5 separate regions of the Homo sapiens genome follow, and all the other regions are linked to region 2. Evidence: fine-mapped expression QTL. A gene starts in region 2. Each other region holds a variant in brackets. All regions are shown on one strand. Distances are between the middles of the regions.

Region 1 (6,096 bases), 130 kb after region 2:
AACTTTTAGATTTCTCTTCTTCCTCAGGAACACCAATTATTCTTAGATTTGGTCGTTTAACATAATCCCAGCCTTCTTGGAGGCTTTGTTCATATTTTCTTATTCTTTTTCCTTTGTCTTTGTTGGATTGGGTTAAGTCAAAGACCTTGTCTTCGAGCTCTGAATTTCTTTCTTCTACTTGTTCAATTCTATTGCTGAGACTTTCCAGAGCATTTTGCATTACTAGAAGTATGTCCAATGTTTCCTGATGTTTTAACTGTTTTTTCTTTATTCTATCTATTTCCTTGAATATTTCTCCCTTCACTTCTTGTATTGATTTTTGGATTTCCTTGCATTGGGCTTCACCTTTCTCTGGTGCCTCCCTAATTAGCTTAATAACTAACCTCCTGAATTCTTTTTCAGGTTAATCAGGGATTTTTTTCTTGGTTTGGATCCATTGCTGGTGAGCTAGTGTGATTTTTTGGGGAGTGTCAAAGAGCCTTGTTTTGTCATATTAATTACCAGAGTTGGTTTTCTGGTTCCTTCTCATTTGGGTAGGTTATTATTAAGTCTTAGTAGTTTTGGTGAGCCTGGGCCCTTGGACTGTGAACTTCACAAGTGCTTCTTAGTCTATCCCTTCCCTCCCCTTAGGTGGAACAGCTAGAGTGGCTAGAGCTGGGTATCCCCCTACCCTTAGGTCAGTTAGGCTGTGAGAAAAACCTAAGTAATTTAAGCTCTGGTAAATTAGTTTCTCCTGAGGGCAGGCCTTGTTAAGAAAACTAGAATGTTTTGGTATATTTAAAAATTACTTTTCTCCTACCCCTTTTGGAAGGATGAAGAGATTTTTCTCCAGTATTTACTGTAAGAACTTGGTTGAGCTCCTGGAGGTAAAACTCACAAAAGTGTGTTGTGTTTTGGGTGCCGCGGTGGGGGGTGGCGCTTGATAACTGGGCCCCACTGGAGTTTTTCATCTCTCAGACTTGTCCACACTGAGCCTCCAGCAATTTGTCAATTACAGTTCAGGGCTTCCCTACTCCTGGCACTGGTTCTTGCAGAGGTTTCTGCTTGTGGGTTTCTGCTCTGTTAAGTTGTGATTGTTTCTATTTGCTTGTCTGTCTCTCTAATTTTGGGGGCAGTAGTTTGCCCTGTGACTTCACTTCTCCAAAAGACCTAATAAGAGTTGCTGAATTTTTTTTTTTTTTTTTTTTTTTTTTTTTTTTGAGATGGAGTCTCACATTGTTGCCTGGGCTGGAGTGCAGTGGCACGATCTCGGCTCCCAGGTTCACGTGGTTCTCCTGCCTCAGCCTCCCAGGTAGCCGGGATTACAGGTGCCCACCACCATGCCCAGATAATTTTTTATATTTTTAGTAGAGACGGGGTTTTACCATGTTGGCCAGACTGGTCTCAAACTCCTGACCTCATGATCCGCCTGCCTCAACCTCCCAAACTGCTGGGATTACAGGCGTGAGCCACCACACCCGGCTGAGTTGTTGATTTTTTAGTTTGTTCAGCTTTTTACTTGTTAGAATGAAGTGATGACTGCCGACCTCCTTATGTGCCAGACTAGAAACTGGGAGTCTCCTATTTAGTCGTCCTTAAAAATTGTAAGCTGGACATTGTTGGTGATGCATTGTAGCAATTCTGATTTCTGTTACCTGAGAGTGTTGATTTTTGTTTTCACTGGCAGCTAATCAGTAGTCAGTTCCCTTGAACTTATAAAGCCTTAGTTTTACACTTTGTTAGGACGAGTCTTTCAGATTTTTCCCTTGATCTTAGGCAGATCCCTCAGTCCTGGGACACAGTCTCTACTCCTAGCATGAACTGTTTGTCAAAGCTCATGTCACTGCCCTGTACTGGCAATGAAGAATAATCAAATTCTATTCCAAACTGTAGGCAAAGACAACAACTATTAATCTCTACTGATCAACTTGACTCTCAGCCACAGGTGGAAAACCAGTAATAAAAAAGGGTTGTCTAAAGGCTTTGAGATCTACCCATTCTCCTAAATATTTCAAATTTTATTTCTGGCCAGATTGGACCAGAAGGCTGAATCCTTAGGTGGTATGGCTTTGCCCCTATAGACTTCCTTGTATTGAGTTGCATGTTGGCATCTGCCCTCATCATATAGTAAAGGATGTGATAAGAAGTCGTCAGTGGAACCATCCTAATCTCAGTTTTATTTTTCATAAGAATGCCAGTGAGCATTCCATCCTACAGGGTCCCCTGTAGGAGAAGGAGCCACTGGAAGAATTTCTCTCAGATTTTAGTGCCAGAAAAAGCTCTGCTTCTCCTGAGCAACTGATAAGTTTCTATCTCATTAATGTTTGGCTGCTGCTAAGCTCAGAAGCAAAGTCAGTGTTTAGGAACTCTTGTAATTTTGAGGGCTATCTTTTGCTTTAATTCCCTTTGTTTATTTAATTATGTCATATTTATTTCCATCAGACCCTTAACTGCTTTTTCTATAGCAAAGCCAAAAAAAAAAAAAAAAAGTCATCGGAATCATAAAGAGCCAAGGAAGCTGCTATCATTCCAAACATTTTTGTCCTTCCTCTTCTGGATGGCTTTCACAGCCAGATTCGAATCCACGTAAGACTGTCATCTTCAACCCAAAGTGAAATGACTCACCTGCCTTTCTACTTGATTCACCAATTGGTAGTCAAGAAATCGATTTTCAAAAAAATCAAATTTACTCCTAAAGGGCAGAGGTTAAAGATACTTTAAAAAATTATATCCTGGCTGGTGTGGTGGCTCACGCCTGTAATCCCAGCACTTTGGGAGGCCGAAGTGGGCAGATCATGAGGTTAGGAGTTCGAGACCAGCCTGGCCAACAGACCAGCCTGGCCAATATGGTGAAACGCCATCTCTACTAAAAATACAAAAATTAGCCGAGCGTGGTGGCAGGTGCCTGTGATCCCAGCTACTCAGGAGGCTGAGGCAGGAGAATTGCTTGAACCTGGGAGGCAGAGGTTGCAGTGAGCTGAAGATTGTGCCATTGCACTCCAGCCTGGGTGACAGAGCGAGACTCCAACTTGAAAAAATAATTATATCCTGATTTTGTGTCAATAAAGATACTTGAATGAATGTTCTACTGGCCCTGAAGGCGAGTTCAAGGAGAACTTCCAAATCATTTTAGTGTGGCTGCAGTGGTTCCTGCTGATAATCCCAGCATTTTGGGAGGCTGGGACAGGAGGATTGCTTGAGGCCAGGAGTTTGAGACCAGCTTGAGGAACATAGCGGGACCCTGTCTCTGGAAAAAAAAAAAAAAAGTTGGGCGTGGTGGTGCATGCCTGTAGCCCCATCTACTTGGGAGGCTGAAGTGGGAGGATCACTTGAGCCCAAAAAGGCTGAAGCTGCAGTGAGCTAGGATCACGCTACTGCATTCCAGCCTGGGCAACGAAGCCAGACCCTGCCTCAAAAAACAAAAACAGAAATGAAAAAAGCAAAACATTTTGGACCACAGGATCATCACTGGAAGGAGCAAATAGATTCTCAAGGTAATATTTCTTTGACAGAGAGAGCCATCATTGGAACATTTGGTTATCTGGTATGTTTGAATTAATGTAGAATCACTCGCAGCTCTCGTCTTTACAACACAGGGCAACTGTCAGGGTTAGCGAGGCATTTGTTGTCATTCCCTCTCTAGGTGGAGCCAGGGCGTGTGATGGGAGCACGGGGCCTGAGCTGCAGCATAAGTTTCCTCTGATTTTCAACCTGGAAGACGATACCGCAGAAGCTGTGCCCCTAGAAAGAGGTGGTGCGGAGTACCAGGCTGTGCTGCCCGAGGTCAGAAAGGTTCTTGCAGACGTCCTCCAAGACATTGCCAA[C/T]GACAACATCTCCAGCGCAGATTACACTCAGGACCCTTCAGTAACTCCCTGCTGTAATCCCTACCAAATTGCCTGCCGCTGTCAAGCCGCATAACAGACCAATTTTTATTCCACGAGGAGGAGTACCTGGAAATTAGGCAAGTTTGCTTCCAAATTTCATTTTTACCCTCTTTACAAACACACGCTTTAGTTTAGTCTTGGAGTTTAGTTTTGGAGTTAGCCTTGCATATCCCTTCTGTATCCTGTCCCTCCTCCACGCCGACCCGAGAGCAGCTGAGCTGCGCTGGCTCTGGGCAGGGAGTGTGCCTTAATGGGAAGCACACGGGCTTTGGAGTCAGGCACAGGTGCCAGCTCCAGCTTTTGAACTTGGGCAATTGTTTAACCTAACCTGCAAGTTGATTTTGAGGGTTAAATAAAGGCATACATGAAAATGCCTGGCAAATTACCTGACACAGAGCAGACATTCAATACATTTTAGTTTCCTTGTTTCTCTGGTTCCCAGTTTCTCTGGTCATTTTGGTGTAAATCCATTCTAATTAGTATTTAGGGCAGAGCTTCTCTCTCTTTTCTCTTTTTTTCCTTCCACAAACCAGTGTACTCACTGGTCTCCATCTTTAATATGCAAACAAATCACCTGGGATCTTGTGAGAATCCGGATTCCGTCTCAGTAGGGCTCGAGTAGATCCTGAAATCCTACATTTCTATCAAACAATGCCTTGAGGAGCACAGATTTAGACCAAAGTTAGGTCGTTTTCCAGATCTCAGAGCAGACGAGTCCATGGATAAGTCTGTGGCCCAATCCCCTTCCTCTCCTTTTAAGGGTGAAATGACTGCATTTAAAAGAAGTTAAAGAGTTCCTCCTGTCCCCTATAACCACAAGGAAACAAAAAAATATATAAAAACCTCAAAAATGCATTGCCATGATTTTATTATTAGTGTCCAAAATGGGACTCCCAAGTAATAAATGATTTATTCCAGCCACAGCCAAAAAAGACTTTGCCTGGCTAAAAGAGTCTCTCTCTAAGTATGTAATATACAAGAAATACAATTCAAAGAGATGTTCCTATAAGTACATTTTTTACACGGCATATATTTAAAAAGGAGGCCCCTTTTAATATAAAATTCCGGTTATATACCAATATGGTTAATTAGCATTTACACTATAGTTTGAACGTATTTTAAATAGCATGATGTGTATACAATGTCTCCCGCGCCCATTGGCAACCAGGGTCGTGGGAAGCTTGGTGAGGAGTTAACCAGGTCCTGTGGTTTAAGCAGTGGAGCACCCGGGATTCCTGCCCCCCTTTCTGCTCACACAATTGCACTCCATTCTTCCGCCTTCCTTGTTTTCTCCAAAACCACCTGATAGGGGGGATGTCCTGATTTCTGAGGTGTGCTTCTCATCATGACTGCTTCGTTTTGCCCTTCTGATTTCCACGGCACAAGATTATCTACCAAAATCAAAACAGAATGGCCTTACTCTTCTCAGGAAGAGGCTGGTAGGCAGGTGCATTATCAACAGGTCTGTGCCCATGCAGAGTGAGCAGGGAGAGGCTGGGCACTGTGGAATTTTTCTGTCTGAACTCGCTCATGGCCACAGAATGGTCACCCAGCTTATTTAGGTGTAGACAAGTATGACACAGTTCTAGAAAATACTGACTATAAAAATGTCTCTGTGTGTGTGTGTATGTATTTATATGTATATGTATATATTTTTAAAAGGCTCATCTTACTTGTAAACATGGACTGCTCAATCACTATTAAAAAGTCAGTTTAGGCTGGGCGCGGTGGCTCACGCCTGTAATCCCAGAACTTTGGGAGGCTGAGGTGGGTGGATCACTAGGTCAGGAGTTTGAGACCAGCCTGGCCAACATGGTGAAACCCCATCGCTACTAAAAAATACAAAAATTAGCCGGGCATGGTGGCGCTCACCTGTAATCCCAGCTACTCGGGAGGCTGAGGCAGGAGAGAATCGCTTGAACCGGGGAGGTGGAGGCTGCAGTGAGCCGAGATCGCACCACTGCACTCCAGCCTGGGCGATGGAGCAAGACTCCATCTCAAAAAAAAAAAAGTCAGTTTAGGCTGGGCGCAGTGGCTCACACCTGTAATCCCAGCACTTTAGGAGGCTGAGGGGGGTGATCACCTGAGGTCAGGAGTTTGAGACCAGCCTGGCCAACATGGTGAAATCCTGTCTCTACTAAAAATACAAAATTTAGCTGGGCATGGTAGCATGCCTGAAACCCCAGCTACTTGGGAGGCTGAGGCACTAGAATCACTTGAACCTAGGAGGTGG
Region 2 (6,332 bases):
TTCCTGGACTCTTCTCCCTTTTTTCTTTTCTCTTCTCTTCTTCTCTTCTCTCTCTCTTTCTCTCTCTCTCTCTCTCCCCCTCCCTCCCTCCTTTCTTTTTTTTTTTTTTTTGGGGGTTGGGGATGGAGTCTCAGTCTGTCTCCCAGGCTGGAGCACAGTGGTGCGATCTCAGCCCACTGCAAGCTCTGCCTCCCGGGTTCAAGCGACTCTCCTGCCTCAGCCTCCTGAGTAGTTGGGATTAAAGGCGCATGCCACCACGCCCGGCTGATTTTTTTTTTGTATTTTTAGTAGAGACAGGGTTTCACCATGTTGGTCAGACTGGTCTCAAACTCCTGACCTTGTGATCCGCCCGCCTCAGCCTCCCAAAGTGCTGGGATTACAGGCGTGAGCCACTGTGCCCGGCCTTCTCCTTTTCTTTTTTTCCATTCCTTCAGCAGAAGGCCAAACCTTCTGTCTCTGCAAACAAAGCAACTGAGGCCTGAATTTTGAACTCATTTATGCAGAAGCCTCTGTAAGTTCCAGAATATAAAAGTTTATCTGTCCACTTTGGTCTGTGGCCATGTGAATTTATCTGACGGGTAGGGATATTTTTCAGCTGTGTAGGGATCTAACTGGTGAGGCGAGCTGAGTCATCCTGCCCATCAACCCCTGCTTTACGGATGATGGAATTTAGGCAAATCACTTCACTTCCCCATTTTCAATGTCAATGTAAAATCAAGGTAAATGTAAAAAAGGGAGTTGAACTAGACTCTGATGAGCTTAGATCTCTTCCTGCCCTAATAGTCTATACTTCTATGACAGCCTTTGACCGTCACTTGCTTTAATCCTTCTAAGCCCTTTGAAGGCAAGGCCGAAGAGTTGGTCTTCTTAAAGCTCTTAGGCCATATTTGTTAATTTCTGTGTACCATTAACTGGCTGCACAGTTATGGAAACCACAGAATCCTGAACTTCTAGAACTTCTATCATCTGTAAAGCATGGGTTGTCAGGGGAGTCTCTCAAGCCTTTTCCAACTTACAAAACTCGACAATTCTGAATGGGGGTTCCCGGCAGCCATCTTCCCTTCACCCTAGTGTTCTTCTGGAGGAAGTACAATGACACAATCCACGGGCAGTTTGGAGGATTTCCTAGTAGCATGTGGTTAAGTGTCCCCTTAAATAAATGAGTATTGGCCGGGTGCGGTAGCTCATGCCTATAATCCCAGCAATTAGGGAGGCCGAAGCAGGCAGATTACTTGAGCCCAGGAGTTTGAGACCAACCCGGGCAACATAGTGAGGCTGTGTCTCTACAAAAAAATTAAAAAATGAGGTGGGAGGATCGCTTGAGCCCGGGAGGTCGAGGCTGCAATGAGCAGAGATGACGCTACTGCACTCCCATGATGGGAGTGAGACCCTGCCTCTAAACAAATAAATAAGTAGGTATCTTGCCAAAGGCTTGGAAATCCGCTATCCTTGGGAGTTTCACTGTGATTTAATTTGTCGAGAGAAGATTTGGCCCGAGGGCATGAAAAAAATTGTATTATTGTAGACCATCAGAGTGTTATTCCAGGGTCAGCTAAGAGCAAGTTTCAAAACGCAGGCTCTGGATGGAAATGGGGTGGCTACTGTTGTAGGCAGACCTCGAGCAAAAGCACTGCGGATTTCTCTTCTTCTTAAAGGCGTAGCCCGGAGAACAGCTTTGACAAGTTGTTTCTGGCCCAAGTTGTCAAAACCAGTCTGTATTTGGCTAAAGTTCATCTGCATTCTCTATTTAAAAAAAATTTCCAAACCTAACCTGGATAGCTGCCTCACGATGTTGAATCACTGGCTACAACCGAGTCACCATTTTACAAGACTATGGTGTTGAAACCTGAGCCCCTAATTTAAGTGTCCTCCTCAGGAGTTCCACTGAGGAAAGTCCTTTTTCGGAAACCACAGAAGGAAAACTCAGGGTTAGTGGTACTCATTACACTGGAAGGAGCTTTTCCACTTGGCTGCATTGTTTATTTACACACTGTAAGTTCCTATTTTGGACACTCTTCCCTTAATTATGAGAAGAGGGGTTTCTATTATATCATCTGGCCGGATGTATTGTTGACCCCAAAAATGCCACATAACGGTGCTTGGGACATGGGGAGATGCATGGTTTAGAGATTTCAGCATAAGCACTTGGCATCTTTTTTACAAGCAAGACACCTATCTTACCATGATTTGCAAAAACAATCAGATCACTGAGAAATCTCATTCCCGGGGTAGAAACCATCTCCTGCGAGAAGGAGCTGGCACGGAGTGTCTAACCGTGCAAACAAAACCGGCTTCCAGGTTGACAAGTTGTAATTGCTCTTCCCCAGTTGGCTCCGGGGAGCTTTTTCTAAGACTGACGCCCCCCATGTTTGGTGACATTTTATATACGCCACCTAACAAACTTCTATGACCTGTCTTGCTAGGGTGGGGGGAATAAAAAGAAAAGACGACAACAACCTAGAAGGAAATAACCCATTTCCTCTGCAAAACCATCTTCCCTTGCTACGGAACTGCTTGGCGACACCAGCGCTTTCCTGCGGTTGGCAGCCCGGGAACCTTGAAGTTGCGCGGGACCGGCCGTCAGCCGCTGACAGTTCTGACAGTCCAGGTGGAGGACCCGCGCTCTGCCGGGAAATCCCCGGCTTCCCGCTGGGGACAAACGGTGGCCGCCGCAGGGAGTGCTGTGTTTGGGGGTCGGGGGAGGCAGGGAGCCCCACTTTCCCTCGCGCTGCCTCAGTGCCCGGCCTGCGTGCGCGCGCCAGCCTGGGGTAGGAAGGTACCTCTGACATTTCGCTCCTGCGACGCGCAGGCAACTTCATGCGGAAAATCCGCGGAGGGGCTGAGCCTGGAGCCCCCGACTCTTCCGACGTCCCGGAGCCCCCAACCCGGGGCAGGGGGCACTCAAAGGCCAGGCGTGCCTTTAGGTATCTTCCGGGACCCAACTGTACCAGGGTCACGGACATTCAACTCTCAGCTACCCACACCGGCGCGAGCGCGTCATCCCGGTGGCCCTGGGCATTCCTAACTGTCAGAGCGAATATTTTTGGGAATAACCTCTCCAAAATGTGAAGATGTTCAGTGGTCTCCTCCGCCTCCCATCACAAAAAAAGGCCCCAACACATATTTTTTAAAAAACAACCCACATCCCACAATCAAACTTTTAAACATGTAAAATAATAAACCAACTCACCAAGTTAGAAGGGAAGAGAATAAACCCCCAAAGGCTCCCAATAAGGCGGAGGCTTGGCCTCCCCCTCCTTATAAGCCGCTCGGTAACATGAGAAAAGGATTAACCCCTTAGGGGGCGGGCCCGACTCTAGCGCAAGTTGGCTCGGGCTGGTGAGGCCCGAGCGCCCGGGCCCTCCACCCACTCCCGCGACTCGGGCACCCGAGCCACACCCTCCCCCCGCCCCCCACCCCGGCCGCCTGCGACCCGGGCCGTGCGTGCTGCCGCCCGCGCCCCGGCCCCGCGTCGCTGCCTAGCTCTTATCCTATACCGGCTGCAGCCGGTCTCCGCCGGCCTCGGGGGCGCGCCGCCGCCGACCATGTGCTGCGAGCGCTGAGCGCAGCCAAGGAGGGGGCCTGCCTGGCGCGCGCGCGCCGTCCCACGTGGACCTGAGCCGCGCCGGTCGCGCGCCCGCCAGCCTGCCGCCTGGGCTGGGGGTCACGAAAGGTAACCGCGTCGCGGTCCGGGGCCGGGCCGCCCCCGCCAGCGCCGCCGGGGTCCTTGGCACAACGCCCCGATCTCCCAACCCGGGTGCGCCTCTGCGCGCGTGACCCGCCCAGACCCCGGAGCTTTGCTGCAACGCTAGTAGGAGCGCGAGCGTGCAGGGTGTTGGGGGTGCCTGCATCCTGTCTCGGAGCACCTCGGCCAGGCGCGAGCGCGCGGGTCCCCGTCCCCACCCCCGGGCGCCTTCCCGGCGCGCCCACCGCCCAGTCCCGCCCGCGCCCTGAGGATTTAGGGATTTAGCGGCGAGGGGGAACACGCGCGCGCCGGGGCTGATCCCGCGCGGCGCTCGCGGCTGCGGCGGCTTCGCGCCCGCCCCGGGCAGAACAGGTTCCTTCCAGTTTGGGTGTGAGCTGCGCGCGCGGCGCCTGAGTTCCTCCTGCAGCGCCCACTTCCCCCAGTTTCGTCAACTCGCGCACCCCCACAGTTCCCCTTCCGGCAGTGGGGAGGGAGTGTCGCAGTGGGCCCCAGGGAGCGAGCGGCCGGGCCGCTGCGGGTGCCTTGCTTCCCCCACTTTGCTGCACCGGCAGCAGCGGCAGCAACAGCATCCGCGTTGCGCGAAAGGAATGTGAGCAGCCGGGCTGAGTCAGCATCCCCGGCCCGGGGCGCGCGCGCACCCTCCAGGCAGTGGCGGCGTCGGCACAGGTGCATGGCTCCCATACCCGCGGGGAGCCCTCTGTAAGGGACCTGGAGGTTTAGACAGTCCGTGCCCCTCATCCCGTAGTCCCCGACCCCAAGGTCACCGTGAACTAAGCGGATGATGCACGCGAAATCTCAGGAGCTCCTCATGGGGACAAAGCATGTGTCAGATCCTAGACATTTCAGAGCCTGCGGGGGCGCAAACTTAGCTTCTTGGTCTCTACCTCACATCCCGAGGGCAAATTTGGAAACTGCTCGGAAGCAAAGGCCATGTTATTTGCATTCGTATGCAGACTTTGGCGCCGGCTGCTGCCTTCATTGGGGTTCGGAGAATGTGGTTCTGATGTCAGAAACTCAAGAGAGCCTAGTTTGGGAGTGCATGCACGGAGGGTCGCCACCGGGAGGAGTCGGCGATCTGAATTTTAATAAAAATCCTTCCTTGCTCGCTGAGTTCTCTCACCATTTTGGGATAGGCTCTCCTGAGTTAAATGCCATCCTTTGCCGTTGACAAGTTCTGGTTGTGTAAGTGGGGAGAAGATTCGTTGGTACAGGGTGCCTTGTATGGCCAGTAGTGTACAGCCAAGGGGCCGCTGAGCAGCTTTGCAACCTTGTAGGCGTAATTTAACCTCGTAGAGCGTTAATTTCTCCAGATCTGTAAAATGGGGATGGAGGTGGTATTCCCAGAATTGGAGGGTTTAATTTATGGTACTTGTAAAGTGCGGATCGCAGTGACTGGCATTTGGTAAGGCCTCAGTACCCATTAGCTCTTGCTGCTGTTACGATTTATGCTTTACCAAGGCCAATTAATTGCTGACTCCAACACACTCCCTGTGAGAGAGAGCCCTTTTTTGAGTTGTTCTTCAAAGGATCCATATATAATGATATTTAGAAACTGATTTGAACACTTCATGCTAATGCAGGGCTGCCTGTAAGATAATCTTTGATATTTAGGATCTTACACTTTAATACTTAGGACCTGTTACTGTACTCTATATGGAAATATCATGTGCAATATGACAGCATATTCTGTATGTCTTAGGAACCTAAAGGTGCAGCCAGCCATTTATACCTGAGTGACTCGAAGCAAGTCACATAAAATCTCTGTACTTCAGTCTCTTGATTTAAAAAATGACTCAAATTATACCTAAATCCTCAGGAGTGAATGAATGATTGGAAAAATCACATCTGAATGTTTGAGCAAGTGAAACCTGGCTTTTGGGGAGCATGATTCTAATAATAATAATAATAATAATAATAGATTTTTGTTACTAATGTGTTACTATTCTTATATTTTATTAATATTAATCTTTTTTAAATGTTTGCTTTGTCCTCAACACTGCATTAAGTGCCATACATGTAATGCAATGTTAACCGCATCAGTAACCTTCTGTAGTTGACACTCATTATTCCCATTTTACAGATGAGGAAAGTGGAGGCACTGAGCACTGGAGGGATTGACCTAAGGTTACACCATGTTTATAGATACACACTAGCACTTTTTACCACTAGAGCTCATCCAAAGATGACATTTGCCATCTGTGTTTGAATAATGGAGAGGTAGCTGGAAACCCAACCTACGCACAGCCTTGCTAGTCACAAAAAAGTCACGCAACATGACTTTTGCCCACCCTAGTTAGAGGCTGGCTTCACCTTGTTCCCTCAATCCTAGTGAGACCAAGCGTGAAAACCCCTGCTTTTTTAACTTCTCCAGAGAAAGCACTGCATTGCCATGCTAATCAACGCCCCCTTGCCCCCAAACAAAACTAACTCTGTTTAGTTCTAAATAAGAACAAAAGAACCTTTGGAGTCTGGAGTACAGGACCAGAAAAATCAGGAAATCAAGTGAAGGGCTCAGCTCCCCTCTTAGCCTCTCCTGTTGTGTCTGCCTGATCCCAAGTGGCAGGCAGAGCCCCCTCTCGGCTTTCCTTTACAGTGGGCAAGACCATCATGATGCCCTTAAGAAGAC
Region 3 (6,332 bases), 56 kb after region 2:
ATTCCCAACATACTCCCTGTCTGCTTTCCTGTTCATGTCTTGCTGTGTGAGTTAGGGATGCTCTCAGCTATAAGGAACTGAAAAGACCTAACAGTGAATTAAAACATACATGGAGCTATTTTCCTCCCATTATAGCAAGTTTTGTGGTAACTGGTTGCTTTCATTAATTCAGCTGCTCAAAGATGCTGCCGGGAGCCAGGTGCTCTCACTCGATCTTTCTGCTCTGCCATCCTTAGCATGTTGGTGTTTGGTGTTTGTCCTCATGCTCACTGCCTCATGACTGCCATCCAGCGACTTTAGGCCCCTGAACCACGATTTGGCTCAAGGAAGGAAGAAGAGAAGGGAGATGGCTCAGCTCTGCCTGCACCCCAAGAATTGCACTTATATCTTATTGGCCAGAGCTGGGTCTTTTGGCCACGCCTCACTGCTGCACTCCCAGATTGAGAAACTGGGGACAGCATTGTAGTGACTGACTTGAACTTGGGCATGGTAATCTTCCTCCCTTTGAACAAAACCACAGTTCTATTAGCAGGATACATGGGGACATGGGCATTGCTGGGAGACCAGCAACGTCTGCCACATTGTCCAATGACTCCCTCTCCTTTAAAACATTTTTTTAGGCATCTCTTACTCAGCATTTATTATGTGCTAGGCACTGGGCTGTTTATTGGCATGAAGATGATTATTGTATTGGCAAGAGAACTGAGTTTCAGGCCGGTGAAGAGAAGCTGCCTAACCTGGAGGGGTGGAGGCCAGGTCTAGGCAGGTATATCTGTTCCCAGCCTTGCCCTGAGGCTCTGCCTCACTGCCCTTCTCCCCTCCAGGAGCCAAGACAGCCCAGTATTCCCAGAAGTATCCTCAGCTCCCTGTGTTTGTTAGTCTAACTCTCAAAGAGCTGGACCCCTTGGGATCCCTGCCTCCTCCACTATACAGGAAATTGCAAGGGAGGGAGGGTGCAACCACAAGCGGGTGGCCCTGTGGGCATGCCTTGGGTGTCTGAACCGTGTGAACCTGTGGGAGGTTGTTCTACCCAGACCCAGGGCTGGTGCCTCTGCTATTGGCCCTTTTATCCCACTCTGGGTTAAAGAGCCTGATATCCTTTTACGGAAGCTCAACCTGGAGTGCGGCATTCTTTGTCCCAGAAGGGGTAAGTCCCAGGCTGTAGGAGAGACCAATTAAGGTCACACACTTCTCTTTTTCCAATCCCTTTCTTCCCATACCCCAAGGAGTCATTATGTTAACAACATCAACACCAAGACACCATTTGTGAAACTGCCACTGTGGGCTGACTCTCCTTACTAGGCCAGTTACATGCGTCCATGTAAACCTCACAGCCAGCTGAACGAAGTGGCTCACGCCTGTAATCCCAGCACTATGGAAGGCCGAGGTGGGAGGATCCCTCGAGCCCAGGAGATCGAGACCAGCCTGGGCACCATAGTGAGACTCTGTATCTACAAATAAGTAAATAAATAATAAAACTCATAGCCAGGAAGAGTTAGGTCCCAGGGCTGTCCCAGACTCAGCCCCTATGCTGCAGAAGTGGGGCTGGCTTCTTCTGGAGCTGAATTTGACCTCACTGGCCCCTCCGTCTTCATGCCTTTAAACTCCCAGTAAGCAACTGTTTGCAGCTTGACTGTTTAGCTGCATTCCTCACCCCCTCACCACTCACGACACCTTTTGCACATCCTGGGCAGGATATTTAAGCATATCCAGCTGTTGCAATTATGAACTAAAGTACACTTTTAGGAAAAATTAAAGACCCACCAAAGGAATATCAGATCCTTTTACAACACTCACACTTTGCTTCTAATCTTGGTCCATGTTTATGTGTTGCCTAGCTGTGCGAATACCACTGGGCTCCACTTTTCCCCCTTTCACATTATTCTATGTTTCCATGTCATATAATTTTACATAGTATAATTTTTATGATTAAACAATACTTTTCATAATTTTAATATAATGTCATGTTCTCATGTAATGTTTAATCCAAATATTTCACATAATGCTTAATACATTTCTCTCAATCTTTTTTATTTATTTGGGACAAAGTCTTACTCTGTCACCCAGGCTGGAGTACAGTGGCTCAATCTCTGCCCACTGCAACCCCCACCTCCCGGGTTCAAGTGATTCTCCTGCCTCAGCCTCCCGAGTAGTTGGGATTACAGGCGTGCACCACCACACCCAGCTAATTTTTGTATTTTTAGTAGAGATAAGGTTTTGCCACGTTGCCCAGGCTAGTCTCAAACTCCTGGCCTCATGTGATCCGCCTGCCTCGGCCTCCCAAAGTGCTGGGATTACAGACATGAGCCACTCAATTGAGAGAAATTGAGAGCCCATTTCTCTCAATTTTTTATTAATCTTTTTTTTCAATCCCATAGAGCAGTTGCAGGGAGGGAATAATGGACTCCTAGAGGCCCTTCATCCAGTTTCACCGATTCTTAATTTTTGCTACATGCAGTTGTCTTGAAAAAATAGATCGATAGTTCCTTATTGAGGCCACATCAAATAATGTACTTAGACATACTCCTGTGGTTGCCCGTTAATCTCTCGTTTGAGCGGTTTAATGCTGCCAGCGTCTCAATCTTTGTACCACATTCTTTTCTTTGCCCCCTCACCATGGGGGTGGCGTCCCTGGGGTCTACTCCTCAGAGCGGAAGAGCAGATCAGAGAGTTCTGACACTGTCAGAGCTCTTGCCACACATTGCCCGATTATTCCCCCAGACTGAGCGCATTTGCAGACCGAGGAGCAGCAGGGTGTCTGAGTTTCCTCATTTGCTGCCCCGTAGGTGTCTCGGTGCTTGAACTGCGGGCTGCTGATGTTGGCCAGAGAGGAAGATGATGAAACCAGGCAGGAAGCGGGCATTTCTGAGACGATGTGGGG[C/T]GGTGCACCTGCACCCTGGGCCTCCTGGTGCCTTTGCAGGGCCCCAGCGCGGGAGGGCAAAGTGAAGGAGCCCATGTGGGGTTGCTGTGTCTGTGGAGCCCTCTTTGAGGGGCAGAGGCTCAGGCTTCTCCGGGCTCCTGGTGATGGGCTGTCTTCCCCTTTCACTGTGGTTTCCCGTGTGAGTCTGGGGTCATCCTTTATGTGTCCCTGTGGACACCGTCTCGGCCCCAGAGAGCAAAGCCTGGCTTGTACACCACATTGCAGCTTCTTTTGGCTTGTCCACAGTGCGAGGCGAAGCTAATGGAGAGCTGAGTGTGTGATCAGCTCCTCAGGGGGCTGTGGTACCCCTATGGGGATTCCTCTGAAAATCTCTCTTATGTTTTTCTACAGGCAAATGGCATCTTGGACACCACGGCTCTTATCACCCCAACTTCCGTGGTAAGAATTCTTTTGGGGATTTGTTACCTGGGAAACAGAAAATAAAGGTCTCTGTGTAAGACTCCATGAACAGCTAAGCCATCCTGTCTCTGGGGGCAACCCTAAGTTAGGACATCTTTGTTCACGAGGTCATTTGAGTGCATTTGGGGTGCCAGGGCTCTCCGGGACCTTACATCCCACTTGCTGGCATCTTCCTTGACTGTCCTTCCTTGGTGCCTGTTTGCCCTTCCAACTGCCCCATCACAGGCCCATCAGCTTTTTTGCCATCTCTCGGTTCTTTACACCTCAGGGAACATTCTGCCCCATGAGGTCCAGACATGGCTAATCTGGGAAGAAGTAAAAATTGACTGATGGGTTCACCGAAGCAGGAAACCTGGCCATAGACCCAAACAGGAGATGCTGCCTCTTGGCCTCTTCCTGCAGCCTTTGCTTCCTCACCCTCTGGCCTTGGGGAAGTAGGCCAAGATCAAGCTACCAAAGCTGGTTCTCTGAAAATCACTTTGCTGAAGGGCGGATTCTCCAAACGTCCAATTCACTGAATTACTGATGGTTTTTCAAAGTTGCAGTTCGTGCCACTGACCTTTTCCATTTCCTATAGGAAGCCGTGGACTTTCTCTTAAAGGCATTTACCATGATCTCAGCTTTGGTGGCTTCTCCTGTCCCTGGCCCCTTCCTCTTCTGCCATTTTATAAGCAAATGTGATTCTCTGACTATTTTGCAGACTTCTCCCCTCCCCTGCCCCAGTATCTCTCCCTATCTCTATGGAAAACGGCTGAATTGTTCTGTCCTAGACCTGGCGGAAGGTTTGCATTGGAAGATTTTTGCATTTGGAGAATGACTTTCAGAGGGTTGGCCTGGAGCCAGCCTTCAGCAGGGACCCACTGGTCAGTAACCCCATTGGCTGACGTCTTCTTCAACTCTTACCTCCCCTTTGATGCTCATTCCTCTCCCTCTCCTCCCTTGAGCCCCTTTTCCCAGGTGGGCATTCGTGGCATCATCCACACATGCTTTAAAAAAAATGACAGATGGGAGAAGTGAAGACCTGGCTTTTGCACTCACTAAAAATTACTCCAGAACTTGTTTCCTCCTTGGTCTTCAGTTTTCTCACTTGACAGTTGAGGGGTTGGACCAGATCAGGTGTTGGCACCTTGAGGGCATATTCCTGTGGTGAGGGGATACTGAGACCAGCTCCTATGCAGCAGGAAGTGGTACCATGATGGATCTGGTGTCTCCTGTGGGTGTGGGAAGTGGGAAGAAAGAGTACCTCCTACCTATTTGCTCTTTGGACCAGACAATTCCAAAAAGCCTTCTGGCATGGACACTCTGAGGTTTCTTCATGCTTATGTCCAAGTTCACTCCTTTTCCCTCCTGCCTCTTACATCCTCTCTGCGGTGCACTGTCCTGGTTCCCCGTCTCACTCTGTCTCCCAGGCTAGAGTGCAGTGGCATGATCTCGGCTCACTGCAACCTCCGCCTCCCAGGTTCAAGTGATTCTCATGCCTCAGCCTCCCAAGTAGCTGGGACTACAGGTGCCCGCCACCATGCCTGGTTAATCTTTTGATTAAAAGCTTGGGTTGGAGAAGAGATAGAATGAAGGAGGAAGTCGGAAAAAAACTTCACATGCCCTGGGTTATGCCAAGCACACTTACACATTCCTTCTAAGCACCCACGCTCCTCTTGCTGCCCTGGGCTGTTCCTCAGGTCAGGGCTCCTGCAAACACAACGAGGTCTTTCTAACACTGGGGTATGAGGATGCCTATGATTTAGATCAGTGGTTGGCATAGACCTGTGGTCCAAATCCAGTATGCTAGCTGTTTTTGTAAATAAAATTTTATTAGAAAACAGCAAGGCCAAGCATGGTGGCTCACGCCTGTAATCCCAGCACTTTGGGAGGCTGAGGTGGGTGGATCACCTGAGGTCAGGAGTTTGAGATCAGCCAACATGGTGAACCCCTGTCTCTACTAAAAAAATAAAAAATTAGCTCAGCACAGTGGTGCATGCCTGTAACCCCAGCTATTTGGGAGGCTGAGGCAGGGGAACCGCTTGAACCCAGGAGGTGGAGGTTGCAGTGAGTTGAGATTGCACCACTCCAGCCTAGGCGACAAAACTGAAACTCCATCTCAAGAAAAAAAAAGAAAAAAAGAAAACAGCCAATATGTACAGTCATTTGTGTACATATTGTCTGTGGGTGTGTTTGCGCTACAATGGCAGAGTTGAGTGGCCTTAACAGAGATCATCTGACCCACAAAACCTAAAATGTTTACTATTTGGCTCTTTCCGGCAGAAGTTTGCTCTCCTTGGTGGAGAGTCATCCTGATACCAGATGCAGTAGCATTTCAGGGCTATGTTGTGTACCTAGGGGGTAGCTAAATCCATTTGTGCAAACCAAGTTAGCATGAAGATATCAATTTTTTAAAAATACAACAAACAGGCTGGGCATGGTGGCTCATGCCTATAGTCCCAGCACTTTGGGAGGCCGAGGCAGGTGGATTACTTGAGGTCAGCAGTTTGCAACCAGCCTGGCCAACATGCTGAAATCCCATCTCTACAAAAATACAAAGATTAGCTGGGCGTGGTGACAGGTGCCTGTAGTCCCAGCTACTCGGGAGGCTGAAGCACGAGAATCGCTTGAACCCAGGAGGTGGAGGTTGCATGAGCTGAGATCGTGCCACTGCACTCCAGCCTGGGAGACAGACTGAGACTCCGTCTCAAAAAGAAAAAAAAATACGACAAGCATCTACTAGTTATTCTACATACACCACATATTGGGTTGGCAAAGATCTAATGTCTAACTCGAGGAGTGCATCACTAATGGGGAAGACGGTATTACCCAGATGATAAAAAGTCTGTAGGCTACACTAGGAGAATGGGTTGAGTGCAGGGCTGTGGCAGGCGGGATGCAGTGAAGAGCAGGGAAATTCTGTAGGAAACTTCACACTCAAACTGGGCTGGGAAGTGCTAATGCAGTTTCACCTGTGAGAGACACAGAGCAGATAATTCCAGGCAAAGCCACC
Region 4 (4,000 bases), 130 kb after region 2:
ATATTTTATAGTAGTTACAGACTTTTACCAAAATTAGTGAAACGGAACCTAGTGAGTGTCTGGATGTGGTAAACCCTGACAGAGTAGAATGGTCACATTTGTCCCCACGGTGTCTGACCTAGAGTGCTCTGGATCCTGGAAGCCTCGACTTCAGGTAAATAACCACCGCCTCTTGAGGGTGCAGAAGAACGCCCTTTAAGGCCAGTTGGGGCCATGAGAACCCAAAGGTAAAACAACTGGTTTATAGTTAGGCAGCATGCCAACAGAGGTTTTGAAGTTTATAATTAGTATTTTTAAGAACAACTGCTCTCCGCCACTGAGATATAAACTTCACTTGCCAGCCACGTCTCTGACAACCTGCCTATTGAAAGCCAGAAATGTAAAAGCTCACGCTGCGACCGACCCGCAGAGCCGATGTGGGAAATCACAAAACAACAGCCCCAGCCCTGCATGCAGGGCCCCACCGCAGCTTTGTTTTCTAAGCCAAATGTGCTCACTAGAGGGTTCCACGGATCTGCGGGAGAAAGAAGCCAGACCTGCACTCCATCCTTTTACAATTGGAAGCTCAATGGACACAAAACAATGATCAGGAGAAGTTTCCATAACAAAGCCTAATGGACATTGTTTCAGTGCCCAAGTGGCAGCTCCTCTCTGGCTCTAGGAGCTGATGCTCCAAGTCTTGGCCCAAACACTACTTCCGGCCGGGTGCGGCGGTTCACGCCTGTAATCCTAGCACTTTGGGAGGCCGAGACGAGTGGATCACTTGAGGTCAGGAGTTTGAGACCAGCGTGACCAACATGGTGAAACCCCGTCTCTACTAAAAATACAAAATATTAGTTGGGCATGGTGGCGCACATCTGTAATTGCAGCTACTCGGGAGGCTGAGGCAGGAGAATTGCTTGAACCCAGGAGGCAGAGGCTGCAGCGAGCCGAGATCACACCACTGCACTCCAGCCTGGGTGACAGAGCAAGACTCCGTCTCAAAAACAAAACAAAACAAATCAGTACTTCCATCTCGAAATGATTTCAGGTTGACTATCTGGGATGTTTTGACTGAAGCTCACAAGAGCGGTCTATATGTTACTCCAGATGGGAGCCTGAAGAATCAGCAGTTAAGGAAGCCCCAGCAGGCTCTCAGGAGGGAATCTTGTCTTCAGTTCCAGGTGATGGAAGAAGCCACGCCCAGCACTCAGCCAGCCCCGAGGGCCCTAGCTGTGGGAACAGGCTGAGCAGGTTGCTGGGAAACCCAGCTAAAGGTGCTCGGGCAAGCTCCTGCCCTGCACCTGCTGCCCTCCACAGAGCACACAATTGCTTTTCTTTTCTTTTTGAGATAGAGTCTCACTCTTTCACCTAGGCTGGAGTGCAGTGGCACAATCAGAGCTCACTGCAGCCTCGACCTCCCAGGCTCAGGTGATCCTCCCATCTCAGCGTCCCGAATAGCTGGGACTACAGGCACGTGACACCACACCCGGCTAATTTTTTCTTTTCTTTTTTTTTTTTTTTTTTGGTGGAGATGGGGTTTTGCTGTGTTGCCCAGGCTGGTCTCTAACTCCTGGGCTCAAGCAATCCTCCAGCCTCGGCCTCCCAAAGTGCTGGGATTACAGGTGTGAGCCACCGCACCCGGCCACTTGTTTCTTAATGAGTGTCTGCAACTGCTGGGGAGGTGCGGGTCTGCCGGCCAGAGCTGCAGGTAAGTGAGGGTCAAGCTGGTTCACAGAGTGCAGCAACTCAGCTCAGAGTCCTGAACACACAGCCCAGCCCTCTGAAACCATCCCCTCCAGCACAAGGAAGGCAGCATTCTGCAAACGCATCCATGGGAGCCTCAGGAAAATAAGTTTTAGACAAGTCACGTGTTCCTACCTTCCAGGCAGCAAAGTCAGTGCTACAGAAGCAAAGTAAGGGATCGCAGGCCTCTGGCTGGAGGGAGGCCACCAAGACTCCCTGGATTAGTATTCGGTGACTCTAATGCCATCAGGGTTTAGCTCGACACCTAAAGCCTACTCTGTAGGATTCGAAGCACACAGTACAACAAATATCCTATGGCTTTCCAAATACTAGAGCAGAGAATTAGTTGTTATAGATTAGAAAACAGGGAAAGGGACTCTGCCTCTCGTATGAGGCG[A/G]AGGTTTCCTTCTAAGCACACAGACTGAGCCGCCCAGTTACGGGTTCCTAATGCTCACAGGAGGAAACTCATTCTCATCATCAAGACACACTGGTCCCGTCGCAAACTCATGTTCAGGAATAACTTCTCCTCGCAGCGCCCCGCCGTCCTCAGAATAACCTGGAAACCAAGAAAGAGACATGAAACAAGCACTGGGGATCTGCTTTTATGCCATGACCTGGCGGGTGGGGAGCGGGGGCTCAAATAAAGGGCAAAGGAAGCAAAGGGGCTGTCTGTCTTCCCCCTGGAGGTACTGTGCCTAGGACAAGTCATAATCCTCACCATCTGCCATCTTTAAGCCTGACCTGCCTTTCCACTTCAGATGCCTGAGGCATCCTACCTCTTTGAATTTTTCTTTGTTGAGGTAGGGTCTCAGTATGTTGCCCAGGCTGGTCTCGAACTCCTGAGCCTAAGGGATCCTTCTGCCTCAATTTAACTTCCTGAGTGGCTAGGACTACAGGCTCTTTGGAAATTTTAGTTTAGTTTTTATTTTTTGAAACAGAGTCTCACTCTTTCACCCAGGCTGGAGTGCAGTGGTATGATCTCAGCTCACTGCAATCTCCGCCTCTCTGGTTCAAGCAATTCTCCTGCCTCAGCCTCCGGAGTAGCTGGGATTGCAAGTGTGTGCCAACATGCCCAGCTAATTTTTCTATTTTTTAAGTAGAGATGGGGTTTCACCATGTTGGCTAGGCTGGTCTCAAACCCCTGGCCTCCAGTGATCCGCTGGCCTCAGCCTCCCAAAGTGCTGGGATTACAGGTGTGAGCCAATGTGCCTGGCCTCATTGGAATTTTTGAAGAGGCAAAGGGTTAACACCACTTGTTAGGAAAAAGACCGTATCGTGTGATGCCTTGCCAGGTTGAGGGTCCCAGGTTTAAAGGCTATTACCATGGCCTCACCTGTGAGAAAATAAAAAATTCAAGGAGAGCACTCCACCCCCAGGTAACAGTGAAGGGGGAAGGGGAGGGAGGGCACTCCACCCCCAGGTAACAGTGAAGGGGGAAGGGGAGGGAGCGTGCAGGGAGAAGGGGAGGGAGGTCACTGTTGGAGATGCTCCCCTGTTGGCCCCGTGTCCACCCACCTGGCACCGTGGAGGCTGAAGATGCACTTGGTCTGGCTACGGTCGCTGCATAAGACTGAGGTAAGGAAGGTCTGAGGTCATTTTCTTTATTCTCTTCTGTTGTTCCTGAGCCAAGCAAGCTACTTGTGACAATCAAGAGGAGGTGAAAGAAAAAAGAAATCATCATATATCTAGGACACCTTCCAAAGGAAAAGCATGAAGAAGCCTGTGCTCAGCTCTGTGGGTTATTTATTTATTTTTGAGGCAGGGTCTTGCTCTATTGCCCAGGCTGGAGTGCAGTGGCGCAATCTCGGCTCACTGCAACCTCCGCCTCCTGGGTTCAAGCGATTCTCCTGCCTCAGCCTCCCGAGTAGCTGCGACTACAGGCACCCACCACAGCGCCTGGCTAATTTTTGTATTTTTAGTAGAGACTGGGTTTCACCATGTTGGCCAGGCTGGTCTCGAACTCCTGACCTCAGGTGATCCGCCCGCCAACTCTGTGGGTTTAAATTGTAGACCTACCCACACGCTGCTGGGCCAGGATGAGCTGAAGTGACCTGCAACTGCCAGGGGCAGTCACACACCGTCAAAATGGCCTCTTTCTCTTACATTGGCTAGACAAAGATTAGTCCTCTGCTCTTCCCAGTACACACAGGTGAGGACATGCTAGCAAGGAGAGCAGCCATCGGTGGGGGGCGGTGGCAGCTCTGGTGCCCTGGCCACAGCAGGAGAGCTCAGTCTGTGCCTGTTCACAGAAGGCATGAGTGCTTTTCTTTTGTTT
Region 5 (6,332 bases), 72 kb after region 2:
CTTCCTCCTCCATGACTCTGGCCCCTGCCTCAAGCCCCTCCCCCACCTTGGACCTGTTTTTCAAAACCACCAGCTGTCCCTAGAGTGTGGCTTCCCGCTCTTCCTTGACAAGGGGGCCCACCCTGGGACTTAGGGAGTTTTTACTTGGGTCTTTAGTTGGCTTTAGTGTTTCACCCAAGACCCTCGACGTAGTACTTGGTTATCACTGCTGGTCATTCAGTTTACTTGACTTTAGACCCTTCATCTGGTAGCAATGCTGAATGCTAATGCTTGATTGGAGTTTTTTAAGCAGCAGGCAAATCTCTGAATGGGAAAAGGAGCCGGTAGAAGGCATGACTCCTGGGTCACAGAGCTAGCTGGGCCTCTGTTCCTTTTGAGGTCTGGGACCGTGCATTGCACCTACGCGGGCAATACAGGGCTTGATAAGCAGGAGTGTATCGGGCATCAGGATGAGCAGCGGCCCAGCATGTTTGAAATCAGACATTTCTTAGTTTTCTTTTTTTGAGACTGAGTCTCGCTCTTGTCACCCAGACTGGAGTGCAGTGTTGCAATCTTGGCGCACTGCAACCTCTGCCTCCTGGGTTCAAGCGATTCTCCTGCCTCAGCCTCCCGAGTAGCTGGGATTACAGGCGCCCGCCACCACACCCAGCTAATTTTTGTATTTTTAGTAGAGACGGCGTTTCACCATGTTGGCCAAGCTTGTCTCGAACTCCCAACCTCAGGTGATCTACCTGCCTCGGCCTCCCAAAGTGCTGGGATTACGGGTGTGAGCTACCGTGCCCGGCCTGAAATCAGACCTTTCAAACAAATCAATCTTCCATGGTGTCATGTACTACACATTGAAATCCTAACCCTTAATGGGGTGGTATTAGGAGGTGGGGCCATTAGGAGGAAATTAGGTTTAGATAAGATCATGAGAGTGAAGCCCCCATGTTGGGATTAGTGTTTGTATTAAAAGAAGAGAAAGAGACTCTGGTGTGCTCTCTCCTGGCCATGTGAGGATACAGTGGGAAGACACTTGTCTGTTAATAAGCCAAGAATCAGCCCCTTACCAGACAGTGGACTTCCCAGCCTCTAGAACTGGGAGACGTAAAGTCAGGCGTGGTGGCTCATGCCTGTAATCCCAACACTTTGGGAGGCCAAGGGTAGGAGATTGCTTGAGCTCAGGCGTTCAAGACCAGTCTGCACAACATAGTGAGACCACCCCCATCTCTACAAAAAACACAACAAAACAAACAAACAAACAAACAAATAGGTCCTTCTGCAGTCTAGAACCTGGAAAAAGAAAAAAAAGGCCAGGCACGGTGGCTCACGCCTGTAATCCCAGCACTTTGGGAGGCCGAGGTGGGTAGATCACATGCAGTCAGAAGAAGTTCGAGATCAGCCTGGCCAACATGGTGAAACCCCATCTCTATTAAAGATACAAAAATTAGCCGGTCATGGTGGCACATGCCTGTAATCCCAGCTACTTGAGAGGCTGAGGTAGGAGAATGCTTGAACCCAGGAGACGGAGGTTGCAGTGAGCCGAGATCATGCCATTACACTCCAGCCTGGGCAACAAGAGCGAAACTCTCAGAAAGAACCATGACAACAACAAACAAACAAAAACAACAACAACAACAAAACCCAAAAAACAGAATTGGGAGAAGTCGATGGTTGTATACTAAGCCACCCCAGGGAGTGGTATTTTGTTATAGCGTCCCTAGCAGGCTAAGACACAGGACACGCATCTTTTGGAACTAGGTCCTCAGGATGCAGAGATGAAAGACATGTTCCAGCCTTCATGAGCTCATGCCTGGGATCTGCAGAATTCTCCGTTTTCCTTGACTCACTATCCGTCTTCATTGCTGGCCCCCATGCTTGCCTAAGTGCCCCTGCTGTGGTGCTGCCCCCTCCTCATCTTGCCTCTCACCCGGCTCCCACCCGACACCAACCTATGTCAGGGATCCAGGTTCAGATCCAAAGACCATACTCACCCCCAACCCCTCTTTCTCCTTTCTCCTGTTTGAATGCAGAGACGGATCTCTAGTGAGTGAGAGAATAAACTAATGACTAGCGAGGCAATCATATCGAACGTCTCCCCCAGGGCTATGTTCTCTGCCTTGTGTGGTCACCACACACCGTCCTCCAGGTCCCACTGTCTCAGGGATCTTTCCCTCCCCTCCACACCCCAAACCCCATTTGGTTCCCCTGTTACACCTTCCACAGCAACTTGTATTTCTCTTCCATCTCTCCTACGGGCTGAGTATTCCGTATCTGGAATGCTTGGGACCAGAAGTATTTCAGATTTTGGATTTTTAAAGAGTTTGGACTATTTGCATTATACTTAACCGGCTGAGCATCCCTAATCCTCCCATGAGTATTTCCTTTGAGTGTCAGGTCAGTGCTCAAACAGTTTCGGAGTTTGGAGTATTTTGGATTTTCAGATTTGGGATGCGCTGCCTATACTAACTTTTTAAATAATCATCTTATTTATATTTTAGTTGCCTTTTTCTCTTTCCTGGTCTCAATTAGATGTTAAACTCCAAGAGGGTGGAAATCATATCTATTGTGCTCATTCCTCTGTCCCCAGTGCCCAGTTAGAGCTTAATAAATATTTAATGAATGAATGAATGAATGAGTGAGTTACTTATCCAGCTCCAGTGATGTGCTGGTGCTGTGCCAGGGATTCAAACGTGAATTAGACATGTCCAGTCTCTGAGTGATTCCCAAGCTAGTGGGGAAACAGATATGTAAAAACATGGCTTTAATGCAGGTTGTTTGTATCTTATTAATACCGCAAGAAGCAGGGAAAAGGGCTATGGCAGGGATGGGGGCAGAGAGGAGGCAGCCAACCATGACCTGGGAGCAAAGGAGGAGGACTATTGGTGGCTTTGGAATTGGATCTTAAGAACTGATTAAGTGTTTTGGGGCAAGATAACAGGGAGAATACTGCTGAGAGAGGAATAACATAGATGAGGCACAGGAAGTAGGTGAGGTGCTTGGGACACTGGCATATAGAAAGAGTCTTTGACAGGGAAGGAAGGTCAGGCTGGAAGGGACGGAGATAGGGAAAGCTGCAAAGACTGGGTGAGGAGTTTGGATTGACCCTGCAGGCTGCAATGAGCCCTAGTACGTTTCTTTTGTTT[C/CT]TTTCTTCTTTCTTTTTTGAGATGGAGTTTTGCTCTCGTTGCCCAGGCTGGAGTGCAATGGCGCGATCTCGGCTCACCGCAACCTCTGCCTCCCAGGTTCAAGCAATTCTCCTGCCTCAGCCTCCCGAGTAGCTGGGATTACAGGCATGCACCACCATGCCCAGCTAATTTTGTATTTTTAGTAGAGATGGGGTTTCTTCATGTTGGTCAGGCTGGTCTCGAACTCCTGACCTTAGGTGATCCAACTGCCTCGGCCTCCCAAAGTGCTGGGATTACAGGCGTGAGCCATCGTGCCTGGCCGAGCCCTAGTACGTTTCTAAATAGAGATCTGCCAGATCAAGTCTGGGTTAGAGAAGGTTGTCTGTGATGCCAGGGTCTAGTGGAAGATGGCAAAATGGTGGGGCGGGGGACAAGTGGTTATTGCAGCAGTCCATTTCAGAGAGACCCCTTGCCCATCCATCCCCAGGGAGCCACCACCAGAGAGGCCAGTGGGCTGAGAGCTGCAGGTGTTCATTTCCCCCTGCATGAGGGAAGCCCTGCCTTCACCTCCAGGCCTGCCTCCCTCCACCCAGGCACCATCTGGGGACACTTCTTGAGAGATGGGTGCCTCTCACCTGCCCTCTTCCATTTCGGATCAGATGATTTTCCCCAGCCTTAACGGTCCCTGCACCATAATCTTCTCCACACCCTGTCTCCACACCCTGCCCCATCCTCTTGCTCTCCTGGAATGTCCCCTCTGTCATCTTACTTGTTTTTTTCCTTCTCTACTCACCATTCCACTTGTTTTCCCACAAAAATAGCATGTGTTCCCTTTAGTAATCTCGGAAAACTGAGACAAGCAAACAAAAAAAAATCACCCTGAATTCCATCCCAGAGATAACCTGTTTTTTGTTGTTGTTGTTGTTGTTTTGTTTTTTGTTTATTTGAGACAGAGTCTTGCTCTGTTGCCTAGGCTGGAGTGCAGTGGCACAATCTGGGCTCACTGCAACCTCCGCCTCCTGGGTTCAAGCCATTCTCTTGCTGGCTGGGATTACAGGCACGCGTCACCATGCCTGGCTAATTTTTGTATTTTTAGTAGAGACAGGGTTTCACCATGTTGGCCAGGCTGGTCTTGAACTCCTGACCTCAGGTGATCCACCCACCTCGGCCTTCCAAAAGTTCTGGGATTACAAGTGTGAGGATAACCTGTTTTAATACCTCCGAGTATGTTCTTCTAGCCTCATTCTATGCTGGTGCATAAACATATGTTTCCCTGGTTTTATTAAGGTATAGTTGAAATGAATGTGTTTTAGAAAACAAAAGTGGAGTCACACTGTGATATAATCAGTATTTTTTTAAAGCATCAGGTGTCCCCCCACTCTATTTTCCATTCAGCACAGGTGCATAATGAAGAGGTGGCTTGCGGGACAGATGCCCCCAAGGGACTAGTCTGTGTGGGCTCTGCCTGATGCCATGTTTTGGAATCTAGCCTGGCATCAGGATGCAGGGAGAGAGGTACATCCTTGGGCATCATTTATGCTTACTACTGCTGGCATGTATTCAACATTCTTAACAAGGAAGCGGTCGGGCGCAGTGGCTCATGCCTGTAACCCCAGCACTTTGGGAGGCTAAGGCAGGCAGATCACTTGAAGTCAGGAGTTCGAGACCAGCCTGGCCAACATGGCAAAACCTCATCTCTACTAAAAATACAAAAATTAGCCAGGTGTGGTGGCGTGCATGCCTGTAGTCCCAGCTACTCGGGAGGCTGAGGCAGGAGAATTGCTTGAACCTGGGAGGCGGAGGTTGTAGTGAGCCAAGATCGCGCCACTGCACTCCAGCTTGGGAGACAGAGCGAGACTCCGTCTCAGAAACAAAAAACAACAACAAAATAAGCTACCATTTATTAGATGCTTAGTGTGGGAAGTTACACAACTTTGTTGGGGAGGTCTGATTGTCCCCATTTTATAGATGACAGAGGTTAAGTTAATTGTCCAGGGCTACACAGTCATGAAATAACAAATCTGGAGGTTTGGATGCAGGATTCTCAAGCCTGTGCTCTTCATCAGCCTGTGCTCTGCCATCTCTCATAACTGCCTGTCTCTGTAAGCCTCTGGCTCAGGGTGCTAATGTGACTTTGATAATGGGTGAGAGTTTGGAAGATGATGATGGATGATGAAGGGTGGACAGCAGGACCACCCCTCGCCCATACACATGGTGAGCTGATTTCTAAGAAAACAGCTGCAGTCTGTAGCATTTGCCAATTCCTGAGGTGTAAATACTCAATCTCACCATGGCTGATTTCCAGCTATGGAGATGTCACCGAATATGGCATTGAAAAATGATGGGCAGTAGCAAGCCATTGTGTGTTATTTCCACCACACAGATACAATAGATGTAAATAACCCCATGAGCCTACATCATAGCAGAATGTAGTAGTTGGGAAGTGATAAATGGTGAGAATGTACTACTTTCAAAAAATATTATTGATTTATTTAATTTATTTTTTTTTTGAGACAGAGTCTCGCTCTGTCGCCCAGGCTGGAGTGCAGTGCACAATCTTGGCTCACTGCAACCTCTGCCTCCTGGTTTCAAGTGGTTCTCCCTGCCTCAGCCTCCCGAGTAGCTGGGATTACAGGCACCTGCCACCACGCCTGGCTAATTTTTGTATTTGTTAGTAGAGGCAGGGTTTTGCCATCTTGGCCCAGCTGGTCTCAAACTCCTGACCTCAAATGATCCGCCTGCCTCGGCCTCCCAAAGTGCTGGGATTACAGGTGTGAGCCACTACGCCTGGCAAAAAAATAAAATAAAATAAAATTTATTTAATTGTGGACTTTTATAATTGAATTTTTAGCAATGGCCATGTTTAACAACTGGTTTGCAAAATACTTGAAATTTGAGCCAGATCTAGGCACCACTGCAATATGGAATCTACCTGAAAATTAAAAAAAGCCACCCCCACTGGCCAGGCACTGCCCTGTGCAGGGTAACCAGCCAGTAGATTGTAAGCTGGAAATAAGGACCCATTCACTCAGCAGGATGTCCTGATGCAGGCCACAACCTGCACAACTGTACATGACCATCCCTGGGAGAGTTGGCATCAGGCACTGCAAATCATTGCTGTACGAAAAAACTAGGCAAGAATGGAGATGTTTTCTATCTGCACTGTCCAAGCTGCTAGCCTCTAGCCACCTGCTGCTGCTGAGCATTTGAAATGTGGCTAGGAAT

Evidence for each region. PIP is the estimated chance that this variant, and not a neighbour inherited with it, causes the effect. A credible set is the group of variants that fine-mapping cannot tell apart.
Region 1: its variant is the best candidate, but not a certain one, in a credible set for the expression of ARSG in whole blood (TOPMed, PIP 0.52).
Region 3: its variant is the best candidate, but not a certain one, in a credible set for the expression of ARSG in whole blood (TOPMed, PIP 0.59).
Region 4: its variant is the best candidate, but not a certain one, in a credible set for the expression of ARSG in whole blood (INTERVAL, PIP 0.54).
Region 5: its variant is the best candidate, but not a certain one, in a credible set for the expression of ARSG in monocytes (TOPMed, PIP 0.83).

Annotation. Positions count from the first base shown.
Region 1 is chr17:68,416,567-68,422,662 of GRCh38, forward strand. ARSG (arylsulfatase G) reads left to right here. Exons shown (of 12, transcript NM_001267727.2): 12 at 3,623-4,248. The coding sequence ends at 3,897. It overlaps WIPI1 (WD repeat domain, phosphoinositide interacting 1), which reads right to left. Exons shown (of 13, transcript NM_017983.7): 13 at 4,715-5,254. The coding sequence ends at 5,207. It also overlaps a transcript of PRKAR1A not described here. Among named protein-coding and RNA genes, the nearest start is that of MIR635, 4.9 kb to the right of the region's middle. The variant C/T (reference allele first, on the strand shown) is at 3,804.
Region 2 is chr17:68,287,896-68,294,227 of GRCh38, forward strand. It overlaps ARSG (arylsulfatase G), which reads left to right and starts at 3,600. Exons shown (of 12, transcript NM_001267727.2): 1 at 3,600-3,673. SLC16A6 (solute carrier family 16 member 6) reads right to left here and starts at 3,232. Exons shown (of 6, transcript NM_004694.5): 1 at 3,191-3,232. RefSeq lists silencers at 3,368-4,057, 3,424-3,598 and an enhancer at 4,458-4,687.
Region 3 is chr17:68,343,854-68,350,185 of GRCh38, forward strand. It overlaps ARSG (arylsulfatase G), which reads left to right. Exons shown (of 12, transcript NM_001267727.2): 4 at 3,272-3,319. Among named protein-coding and RNA genes, the nearest start is that of ARSG, 56 kb to the left of the region's middle. RefSeq lists enhancers at 488-988, 989-1,489, 2,761-2,870, 2,891-3,030. The variant C/T (reference allele first, on the strand shown) is at 2,882.
Region 4 is chr17:68,423,895-68,427,894 of GRCh38, forward strand. WIPI1 (WD repeat domain, phosphoinositide interacting 1) reads right to left here. Exons shown (of 13, transcript NM_017983.7): 11 at 3,241-3,359; 12 at 2,181-2,281. It overlaps MIR635 (microRNA 635), which reads right to left and starts at 654; the gene lies at 557-654. It also overlaps a transcript of ARSG not described here and a transcript of PRKAR1A not described here. The variant A/G (reference allele first, on the strand shown) is at 2,123.
Region 5 is chr17:68,360,339-68,366,670 of GRCh38, forward strand. The region is part of intron 6 of ARSG (arylsulfatase G); the gene reads left to right. Among named protein-coding and RNA genes, the nearest start is that of MIR635, 61 kb to the right of the region's middle. The variant C/CT (reference allele first, on the strand shown) is at 3,129.